2 separate regions of the Homo sapiens genome follow, and region 1 is linked to region 2. Evidence: fine-mapped expression QTL. A gene starts in region 2. The other region holds a variant in brackets. All regions are shown on one strand. Distances are between the middles of the regions.

Region 1 (5,372 bases), 42 kb after region 2:
TGGCCCAGCACACATTTCCCAGGCCAGCACAGTGTGCTGAAGTGCTTTTCATCAAACAGTTAACAAGACTTCCTTATACATTTCCCCAGTGTCAAGAAAAACAAAAGGTGCCCAGTTCTCTGCTGCCTCCAGCAGTGCTGGGCAGAAGTGAGACAGGAAGCCAGGCTCCCGAGCTCACACACGCAGACGTAGGTGGGAAGCTACACTGCGTGGGCTTTCACATCCCCAGGGCCCGGGCTGAGGCCTCTTAAAGACAAGCTGGCCCTGTGCTTGCTCCACACCTGACGCACGCCAGGCCAGGCCACAGCGTGGCTCTCTGTCAACAGAGGAAGTGGCGCAGTAAGTGGCCAGCCCCTCCCTGCTTTGGAAAGGTCCCGCTATTCACAGAATCCTGGGTGTGAGCCCTGACACCAAAGGCAGAAACCACAAGGGAGAAGCCAGCCCTGGCTGCCTAAATGCGAAATAAGCCTGTTGCTGGCTGCCACGAAAATGCCACTGTGTTCCAGTCCTAAATGGGGTGCATGCTATTGGTTTGAGACAGTGATTTTTTTTTTTTCTTTGAGACTGGGTCACACTCTGTCACCCATGCTGGAGTGCAGTGGCATGATCTCCGCTCGCTGCAACCTCCGCCTCCCGGGTTCAAGCAATTCTCCTGCCTCAGCCTCCTGAGTAGCTGGGACTACAGGCACACGCTGCCACACCCAGCTAATTTTTTGTATTTTAGTAGAGATGGGGTTTCACCGTGTTGCCCAGGCTGGTCGCGAACTCCTGACCTCAGGTGACCCGCCCGCCTCGGCCTCCCAAAGTGCTGAGATTACAGGCGTGAGCCACTGCACCTGGCCGAGAGAGAGATTTTTATCACATGAAGAAAATAGCTTCTTTCTGTGTTTTCAAGGTTGTGGCTTTTTTAAAATCAGAAAAGAATATTGAGTTTTCTCAAATGCCTTCTCAATGCGTATTAAAATGACGGTACATTTTTTTCCCATGGTGTATTAAAGTGTGATTTTGTAGTAACAGGTTTAAAGCATTCCTGAAATTAGCCCTCCTTTAAATAAAATATGCTATGTGGCTAGATGAAGTTTGTTAGCATTGGGTAGGGGACTTGAGTGTCTATTTATAGGTGGAAGCGAAGGGCATCTGTTCCGTCCGTGTGCGCATGCGTTGAGACGCATGTCATGCCATCTCAAGAGGCTTGGGATCAGGGTTTGTTAACTTTTTTAAATGAACTGGGAAGCTGCACATCTTTTTCTTTCACTTTAAGAATTTGCAGTGGCTCACGCCTCCCACACCTGTAATCCCAGCACTTTGGAAGGCCGAGGTGGGAGGATCGCTTGAGCCCAGGAGTTTGAGACCAGCCTGAGCAACATAGTGAGAACCTGTCTCAATTAAAAAGAAAAAAAAAGAATTTGAAAGAACTGCCTGGGATCTAGTGCCTTTTGAAACAGCAATTCTTTAATAACATTTGCCATTTTTCTTCTTGGAATTCCTCCTTTTTAAGTCGATATTTGATAGTTTATAATTTAACCAAAAAGTATCCCAATTCACTGAGGATTTTCCAATTTTTAACAAACCTTTTTTACGTATTAATCTCTTATACTTCTTCTTTTTCTTTTCTGTTTTTTGTTTTTTGTTTATTTGTTTGTTTGTTTAGGACAGTGTCTGGCTCTGTCGCCCAGGCTGGAGTGCAGTGGCACGATCTCGACTCACTGCAACCTCTGCCTCCTGGGTTCACGGCATTCTCGTGCCTCAGCCACTCAAGTTAACTGGGACTACAGGTGTGTGCCACCATGCCTGGCTAATTTTGATATTTTCAGCAGAGATGGGGTTTCGCCATGCTGCCCCGGCTGGTCTTGAACTCCTGAGCTCAAGTGATCTGCCCACCTCGGCCTCCCAAAGTGGTGGTATTACAGGCGTGAGCCACCGCACCTGGCCTATATTGCTTCTAATAATTATTGATGGACAAATTATGTGCCATTTGGAGAGATTTATTTTGTTCTTTTTAAAAAATATCTTGCTTTGGATACTTATTTTGTTTATTTTCATTTATTTTTGTTTAATAAAATAATTTATAACTATTAATTTTTCTCAGAATTCACTTTTGCCCCATTCCATTCATTTGTACATATAGTATTGCCGATCTTGTTCTCTTAATATTTTGTAATTGAATTTTTAAATTCTCCTGTGACTTCGAAATTATATAAATGATCTTTCATTTCTAGGAATTCCATTTTTTTAAATTTATCCTTTTTTTAAAACTAATTTTTAGTTTTCAGTATTGTAGCCTGAGAATATTGACTTATGATTTATACTCTGGGGATTTGATGAGTCTCTTTTTGCCGCCTAACACAGACCCAGGGGCCTTTGAAAAGCCGGCTGAGTCTCTGTAGAATAGAACCTTTATCAGACAGTCACTGCATCGGTTTATTAACATTATTTTTCATAATCACTTTATGCTACTGTTTATCTACCTAGCCTTGGGAGGTGTGTTTAAGTCTCCCACGTGTCTTGCGTTCCTGGCAGCTGCGGGCTGTCTGTACGCTGTGGCGCAGTGCCAGCTGTCCTGGGTGGAGCATCCCCATCAGCCCCACTGATGGCCCTTCTCACCGGCCTGGGCCAGGTCTGCTGGGAAGCCCACACCCCTGCTCACCTTCTGTCTGCGTCTCCTGGGTACATCCCTCTCTCGCTGTCTTCCTTCAGGCTTTGTTTCACTTTGCCTTGGAGGTGGCCACTGTGACCAGAGTAAG[G/T]GGGATTTTTGCTCTTACCCTCCCTGCCCCGGTGGTGTCTGCAGTCTGGTTGTTGAGACCAACAGTGGGTGAATAATCACATGAGTTCATGGACAGCCACAAAGTAACACCCATCTATGAAGGAAAACCCCACTTTGCTGGGGAAGCCAAATATGATTGAAGCATCCAGAAAAGGCCTCTTTGAGGACGTGACATTTAAGCGAAGGGCGAGCATAGGGTGGCCTTGTGAAGATGAGGCTAAGAGCTTTCCAGTTAAAAGGAACAGCATGTGCAAAGGTCCTGAGGCAGAACACTGGCCACTGTGGCTAGAATGTGGCCAGCAGGAGGGAGGGGACCCAGTTGAGTGACCCACACAGAAGCTTCTGAATCTGGGACAGGTGTAATGGTGAGCACTGAAGGCGTGAAGCAGGGGTGGGAAGGTGTGGACGGTGGGCTTGGGCAGCGGCCAGGGTGTGGGATGTGGCCTGGAGAGCCCGTGGTAGCTAAGCCCAGCATGCAGAGTGGAGGGCGGTGGAGGGGTTTGATGGCTGCCCCTGACTAAACTGGGGGAGGCAGAAGAAGGGGTAGATAGATGCCAAGCCCCCACATACTCACTACAGAAAAGTGGAAGCTGGTATGTAAGTTGTAATAACCCATCCACCAGGACGAGTCACTTCTGCCCCATCCTGGGCACAGTGATGGGGCCTCAGGAGGGGAGGGCACCCTTGAGGGAAAGGGGAGCCATGATAACTCAGGGGATAGGCATGGCATGGGGGCCCTGAGTCACATGTGTTCACAGCCAGAAGTGAACAGCCCAGGCTTCAGGTGGAGGAGGGAGAATGGGGAACTCTCAGGTGCAGCCCAAGGCCGAGAGAGAAGGAGCACTTCGCGGGGGATGCCTCTCCTCCGGGGGCTGGTAAGGGCCCGGGGTCTTCAGTGAGTGAGGATGCCCCACTGCCACCCGGAGCAAGGCTGGAGTGAGGATGAGGTGGGGGCCTGGAGCAAGGGCGAGGTGGAAGAGGGAGGGGTAAGGAGGGATCGGGAGGAGGAGGAGGGGCTGGGAGGAGGAGGGAGGGATCAGGGGGTGGAGGAGGGGCTGGGAGGAGGAGGGAGAGGCCAGGAGGAGAGAGGGATCAGGAGGAAGAGGAGGGGCCAGAAGGACAGGGAGATGGAGGAGGGAACAGGAGGACCAGGAGGACGCAGAGGTCTCCGCAGAGGGGGTGGGGGGAACACAGCGAGGAGGAAAGTGGGGTCCTGCCCCCAGGGCCCACCCCGCACCCCCACTCACCCTTCCACAGAGCCCCTTCCTGCCTCAGAGTTGGGTCCCGCGGGGCCCCCAGTTCCACGCAGGAGGCCACTGAGACTGGAGAGGCCCAACGCCCCGTCCCCGCTCCCTGTCTGCCCTGCACGCCTCCCCCATGAGCCGCTGTCACCAGAGGGTCCCAGCCCTGCCTGCACATCAGAGCCCTCTGGTGGGAAGACCCAGGCTGCCCCAGACACCAGGCACGGTGGCTGCAGATGCAGTGACGCCAACATCTAGTTTCCTGTGAGCCTTCCTGCTAAAATGAGCTGTTAAATATAATTATAAAAAGTATGTATGCTCAAGGTAGAAAACCCAAAAAAGTTGAGAGAAAAGTCCTTCGTGTTATTACCATTCTGGTGGGGATCACTCCTGTGACATTCTGCTGTGTCCCCCTCCCATGTGGACCATTTTACCCCAATCCAGGCTGTTTATGGCACCTGGTCTAACCTGCTGCTGCTTTTCAAAACTTTATTTATTTATTTAGCAGAGAGACTGGGTCTCACTAGGTTGCCCAGGCTGGTCTTGAACTCCTGGCCTCAAGCGATCCTCCTGCCTCAGCCTCCCAAAGTGCTAGGATCACAGGCATGAGAGCTGTTCTTCTGCCCAGCTTTAGAACATAAATGTTTTTCCACATCTTAAAATTTTCTTCCTAAATATAATTTTAACAGCTACATAATGGAGCCACTCATAAACAATTTCTGTGACCGCTGTCCTGTTGTTTGCTGTTTTTCATAATTATAAATCTGCAGTGGACACCTTCTTACATCACTGTTATCTATATTTCACATTATTAATTTAGGATAATTCCCAGTAATGCAATTACGGGGTCAAGAGGCATCCGTGAGTTTGAGATTATTGATACATATTGCCAAATTGTGTTTCAGAAAAATTGTACCAGTTTATCTTCCCTGAGGATTGCTATGAGTGCCTGCCTCAGTATCCTACACCTTCACTAGCATTCAGCATTATTTTCTTTTTTTTTGAGACAGGGTCTTATTCTGTTGCCCAGGCTGGAGTGCAGTGGCAGGAACATAGCTCACTGCAGCCTCAATCTCCCACCTCCCTGGGCTCATGTGATCCTCTGACCTAAGCCTCCCAACTAGCTGGGACTACAGGTGCATCCCAGCACTGGCAAATGTTTGTTGTTGTTGTTTCTTTAAGACAGAGTCTCGCTCTGTCACCCAGGCTGGAGTGCAGTGGTGCGATCTCCGCTCGCTGCAACCTCCACCTCCCAGGTCCACGCCATTCTCCTGCCTTAGCCTCCCGAGTAGCTGGGACTACAGGCACCCGCCACCACGCCCGGCTAATTTTTTGTATTTTTGGTAGAGTTGGGGTTTCACTGTGTT
Region 2 (5,372 bases):
GTTTTTAAGTTACGGGATGTAATAGCTACTTGGAAATCATTTGCTCCTGTTAGTTCTTGCTTTTAAGTTTTGTTAGGCAGCACCAGAATAGCCTTTGTAATTTTTACTGACTACAGAGAGGGACTTGCCCTTCTAATTATGCTCTGATGTTCTGTGTATTTCAAGATTTTTCCACTATGGTTGGTGGGAACTGGAACTATTCCCAGCTGGGTGTGGGCTCTTAGGCTCTTTTCCCTTGGGTAGTGTCCTTAGATGTGTGGGCTGAGACTCAAGTGGGACCCTCTGTGATCTCGCAAGCGCATTCTTTGCGCAGCTCTTTCCTCTCTGGTACTATGCCCTGCCAGCGTTAACTGCCTGGCTTCCCCAGACTCTCTTTGGGTTTCCTTTCTCCATCTGTGGTCTGCAAACTCCAGGCAGTGAGCAGTTGTAGCACTCACCTTATTTGTTTCCCTGCTCTCAGGGGTCCCTGCACTTCTTGTGGTCCACTGTGACAACTGTTGTTTCATACATTTTGTCCAGTTTTTTAGTTTAAGATGGGAAGGTGAGTCCAGTCCCTGTAACTTCATCTCGGCTGGAAGCAGGAATCTTATGTTAATAGTGAATTTTTAGCAGTGTTGACCAGGCTTTGATTGTATCTTTAGCCCTACTGTGTATGCAGTAAAGCACTTGGCCATTTTCTAATCTCTTCTATTGTTTAACCTAATGCCCCTCTAGATTGAGGTACCCTGGGAGAGGAATGATTTTCCATGCTACCTATGACCAATTAGAAATACAGATACATCAGACTACAACTTTTGAAGACGGGAAGCCCATAGTAGTTGCTAAGGAATGTCTTACTTAGACCCAAGGTACAGACAGGAAAATCATTAGGAGAGAACATGCCTCTAGGTGTGTGCCTTACTTCAGCATTCTCCAGAGAACTGTGAATTTCTAAAGCATGTGAACTTGAGAAATAGGCTTTGTCTTCTTAGGAAAATGTATCCTTTAGGGGGTGTTGAGAAAACAGCAGTGACAGGGGCCTCTGGCCTTGCCTCCTTGCAGTCAAGCTTCAAAGAGAAAACGTTGGGAAGAAAGACTCCTGCTGAGCCTGATGAAAGAGGAGTCCCAGTTGCCAACCAAAAACATGCAGCCAAAGTCCACAAGCTACAAGTAGAAAGGGTGGCTCAAGCCAGAGTCCCTGGATATGGAGGGCGAGTGATGGCTGCAGAAAGATGCAGGTTCTTCTCCCCCACTATGACTGGCCATCGCCTAGTGCAGGATGTACGGTGGCCCTGTCCCAGGGCTGTGCTGGCAGCCACCCTTCCCCACTAGCTGTGCTGCTCTCACATGGCACGGCCTCTGGCTGCCAGGCCTGTGCTCGGGCCTGCATTTCCCTTGTGCCCTTCTCTCCACCCAGCCCTCAGGACTGCCTGGGCTGCATTTTGTCCAGAATCCTTTGTCTCCTTACTTGCACTGCAGCTGAGGCGAGTGTCCCTTGTTCCGGGTGGCTCCTGTATTGTGGCGCTCATGTTATTGAGAGTCTTAGAGGTCACCCCCTAGATTCACCAATTGAAGGGCAGGGCTTGTCGATCTAACAGTGTCTTGCACATAGGGACACAAATGTCTGTTAAATGAAGAAAGTAGGGATGCCAGGCCACCCAATGGGGTGTATCTCCTAGGGTTCAAGAACAAGGGCTAATCAAGTCAAGAGAATGTGTGCCCTCCCCCACCATCTCACCCCTCACTCTCAGAACACTTGGGGCCCCTGCACAGGTGGTAGGCATGCTGGCCCTGAGTGCCCTCCCAGCCTGTGTTAGAAGAACCAGTGGATGACCTCGCTGTCAGCTGTCTCCCCTTCTCTGAGCTTACTGCAGGTGGCAGCAGCCTCTCAGCCACAGACTGTTCCCTTTCCTAGGAGAAAACGATGGTCACTCAGCAATGCTGTGCGCTTGCAGCTTCCACCACAAAAGAGACAGCTGTGGCCGCAGCACCAGGGTGGTGATTCTTCCCCCTCCAAGGGCAGTGGTGCATTCCTTAGCACAAGTATAAATTTACTGTTGCTAAGAGTTCTCGGAACAGGATAATACAAGAAGGAACCACTGCAAGTGAAATCCAGCCACCAGTAATGCCGAGAGGCCAGGCCTGTGCCTCCCAAAACCTGCTCCTCCGCAGGCTTCCCCGGCCCATCTCCAGAGCGCCCTCCTCTCACCACTTTACATAAACGAATGTACCCAAGATCCCCCATCAGTTTTCCATGCAGCTGCCAGAGTGCCACCAAAGCAAACCTCATCTCAAGACTCTGTGGCCAGGCCCTCACAACCTCCTGCCAGGCTCTCGCTACCTACCCATCAACAGCAAGACTCCCAGGCCATCTCAATCCCCCCAAAGAGCCCTGTTCCTCCAGCCCCACGGCTTCTGTTCACCTGCCGTGCTGTCCCCGCCTCTGCCCACCCACTCATCCTGCAGATCTGGAGCAGCATTCCAGGGCCTGGTAAGTGTGCGCCATTTTGGGTTACTACGGGTCTCGCCAGGCGCGGTGGCGAGTTTTGCCCCCCACGCTCCCCAGCGCCTGCACCTGGGCGGAGAGGTAGATAAGGCTGGGAGATCTTAGCCTTTTGCAAGGCAAACACCAGGCAGGAACGCCCAGAACCTCGGAGGAGGAGGAGGGGAAGATCCCCAGGTGGAGACCAAGGTGCCCCTCACGCTGAGTCGTCTAGGAGACCCTCCCTAGTTTAAAAAGTGTTTATTTGCTCGGAGAACATTTCAGGAGGCCTTCCTGGGACCCCAAGTGTGCCGCCCCCCGGGAGGGGCCTGGAGACGCCCGCGCGGCCCCCCTGCAAAGTTTTACCGGCCCTGGGCGCCCCCGGCCCTGGCACCCACGCGGGGAGCCGCAGTGGGCCGGGCCGCGCGGCCGCCGCCTCCCACCGCTCCCGCGCCCGCTCCCGCCCCCGGCGCGTCTCCTCCGGGCCCGCGCCGCGGCGGGCTCAGTCCTCAGCGGGGCGCGTGGCGAGCGGACTCGACTCGGCACCGCTGTGCACCATGGCCCGGGCCCTGTGCCGCCTCCCGCGGCGCGGCCTCTGGCTGCTCCTGGGTGAGTAGGTCCAGGGGTCCCGGCCGAGCTCCCTTCCCCTGGCCAGCCGGTGTCCTCTAGGGGAGAGGAGGGGAGCGGGTGGGAGCGGGTGGGAGCGGGTGGGGGCGGGCGCCGCGGGCGCACAGATCCGCTGCCCTTGAACGCGGGCCGCCCCGGTTCCAGGCGGGAGGCCCCAGGGCACAGGGGAGGCGGAGGGCGCGGACCGGTGTTGCGCTTCTCGCCGGGGAAGGGACGGCTTTGGGGACGTCGGAGAGCGGGCATTCTGGAAAGCGTGGGGTGAGTCAGCCCTGCACACTGGAGAACTAGTTTTCAGAAGGAAAAACAGGACGCGGGGTTCCCCAGCCCCGCACCTCGTTTCTCAGGCTGTGCGCCGCGGTGACTGCCAGCGCAGGCTCCCTTCCCTAGGCCGTCCCGCGTTGCAAAACCTGCAGACGGGCACCTTGCAGAAGACGCAGTGTTCGGGAATCAGAACCACAGCCGGTTTGTATGGAAATTAGTCAACACTGACAATCTGTCGCCTGCAGCAGTTGCTTGTTTGCAAATCACGTCTTTTGCAGAAATGAGGCCAGCCCTTTTCGGGACACTTCCATCGCTTTTTTTCTTTTTTCTTTTGGTTTGCTTGTTAACTTGGCACTTTTGGCTAATAGAAATTTAAAGAAGGACGGGTCCCTTGGTGAAGTGGTGGAACACGTTTGGCTTTCCACTTGGAGGGAGAAGTGGAGATTAGCGGCAGCCTCATGGCCACAGGAACTGGCCACACACTCGGCAAGAAACGGTGCTGTTCACTTCCCTTGTCTGTAATGTGTTCCTAAAATGCTAACTCAAGCCCCTTCTAAACCGCTTTGGCTATTGCATTATTCCGTGTATTTAGCTACCTTTTAACGGAAACTGTGAATAGGTTACTGGCGTGGGAGAACCCAGTGTCCCTGGGAAGGCCGGAGCAGTTGTTTCTGGTATGTGTGGCCTTTCCCCGGAAACAGTGATGTTGGTCAGAGGCACCTGCCGCACAAGACCTCTTTGGCGCTGGCACTGGGCAAGCAGGGACCACCGGCGCTGTTGTAGCTGGGGGAGTGGTTCGTGGCCCAGCGAGGAGAGGGGCCAGGGCTTCTTGGGAGCCATGGATTTCTGTTCCCTATTTGTAAACCTCTCCAAGGGGTGGCAGATCTGCATAGAATCCTCAGAGGCCGATATAATATAATCTGAAAGCGGATCTTGCCACTTTAGAGTTTTGGCTGAAGTTACGTGGAAAGCAGAATCTCGCAGTAATTTTATTCTCTCCATTTGGCTTGACATGGCCTTCACTGTTTTCATTTACTAAGAAACAAACATTTCTTTGTTAGCAAGGCAGAGAGCTGGGTTGTGGAATATTTTTTACATAAATAACCAAATAAATAAACGTTCTTTACTAGTGTCCAGAGGCTGAACCCTCTAAAGCTTGTGTAAATAAAACACTATGTCACGATCACATATAAAGACCTTCCTTGTTTACCGAGAAAACTATTCATGTTCTGCCGAAAGTCCAAAGTCCTGTAATTTTAACGTTATTTTGAGTGGCCTGGCTAATGTTATCTCTTGGAAGAACAAACAAAACTTTATGAGGTTATCAGTAAATTAATGTCATTGGAGCCCAGCTGTAATTAGTAGAATTACTGAGCACAGGCTGTTTCCTTCCCAAGCTGTAGCACTAGCCAGGTCTCCTTGGTGATGAAGATTTTGCTACCAAGAATGGCAATGTGGAATTTTTTTAAGTACTCTAGTTTACAGGTTTAAGAACTTATCTGTGACAATTTTACAATCAAGCTATTTGTCTTAGGTAGTTATTAAGAATCTCATAATCCGGCCAGGCATGGTGACTCACGCCTGTAATCCCAGCACTTTGGGAGGCTGAGGTGGGTGAATCGCCTGAGGTGAGGAATTCAAGACCAGCCTGGCCAACATGGTGAAACCCCGTCTCTACTAAAAATACAAAAAAAATTAGGCAGGCATGGTGGCAGGCACCTATAATCCCGGCTACTTGGGAGGCTGAGGCAGGAGAATCGCTTGAACTCAGAAGGCAGAGGTTGCAGTGAGCTGAGATCATGCCACTGCACTCCAGCCTGGGTGATAAGAGTGAAACTCCGTCTCAAAAAAAAAAAAAACTTAGGATCCATATATAGTTCTTTTCCCTCTGAGCATCCTGTGTACTCTTCTGTTTACTGGAGACTCTACATGCATTCTGAAAAGTTTGTGTATAGACACCGAAAAGCTGTTCGTTAACCAGGAAAGAAGGATGCGTTAGAAGCCCCTGGTTTTTCGAGTCCAT

The links. PIP is the estimated chance that this variant, and not a neighbour inherited with it, causes the effect.
Region 1: its variant is the best candidate, but not a certain one, in a credible set for the expression of RAMP1 in whole blood (TOPMed, PIP 0.70).

What each region holds. Positions count from the first base shown.
Region 1 is chr2:237,898,529-237,903,900 of GRCh38, forward strand. The region is part of intron 2 of RAMP1 (receptor activity modifying protein 1); the gene reads left to right. Among named protein-coding and RNA genes, the nearest start is that of RAMP1, 42 kb to the left of the region's middle. RefSeq lists enhancers at 1-427, 395-444, 525-634. The variant G/T (reference allele first, on the strand shown) is at 2,745.
Region 2 is chr2:237,856,658-237,862,029 of GRCh38, forward strand. RAMP1 (receptor activity modifying protein 1) reads left to right here and starts at 2,966. Exons shown (of 3, transcript NM_005855.4): 1 at 2,966-3,070. The coding sequence starts at 3,019. RefSeq lists enhancers at 778-1,566, 1,567-2,353.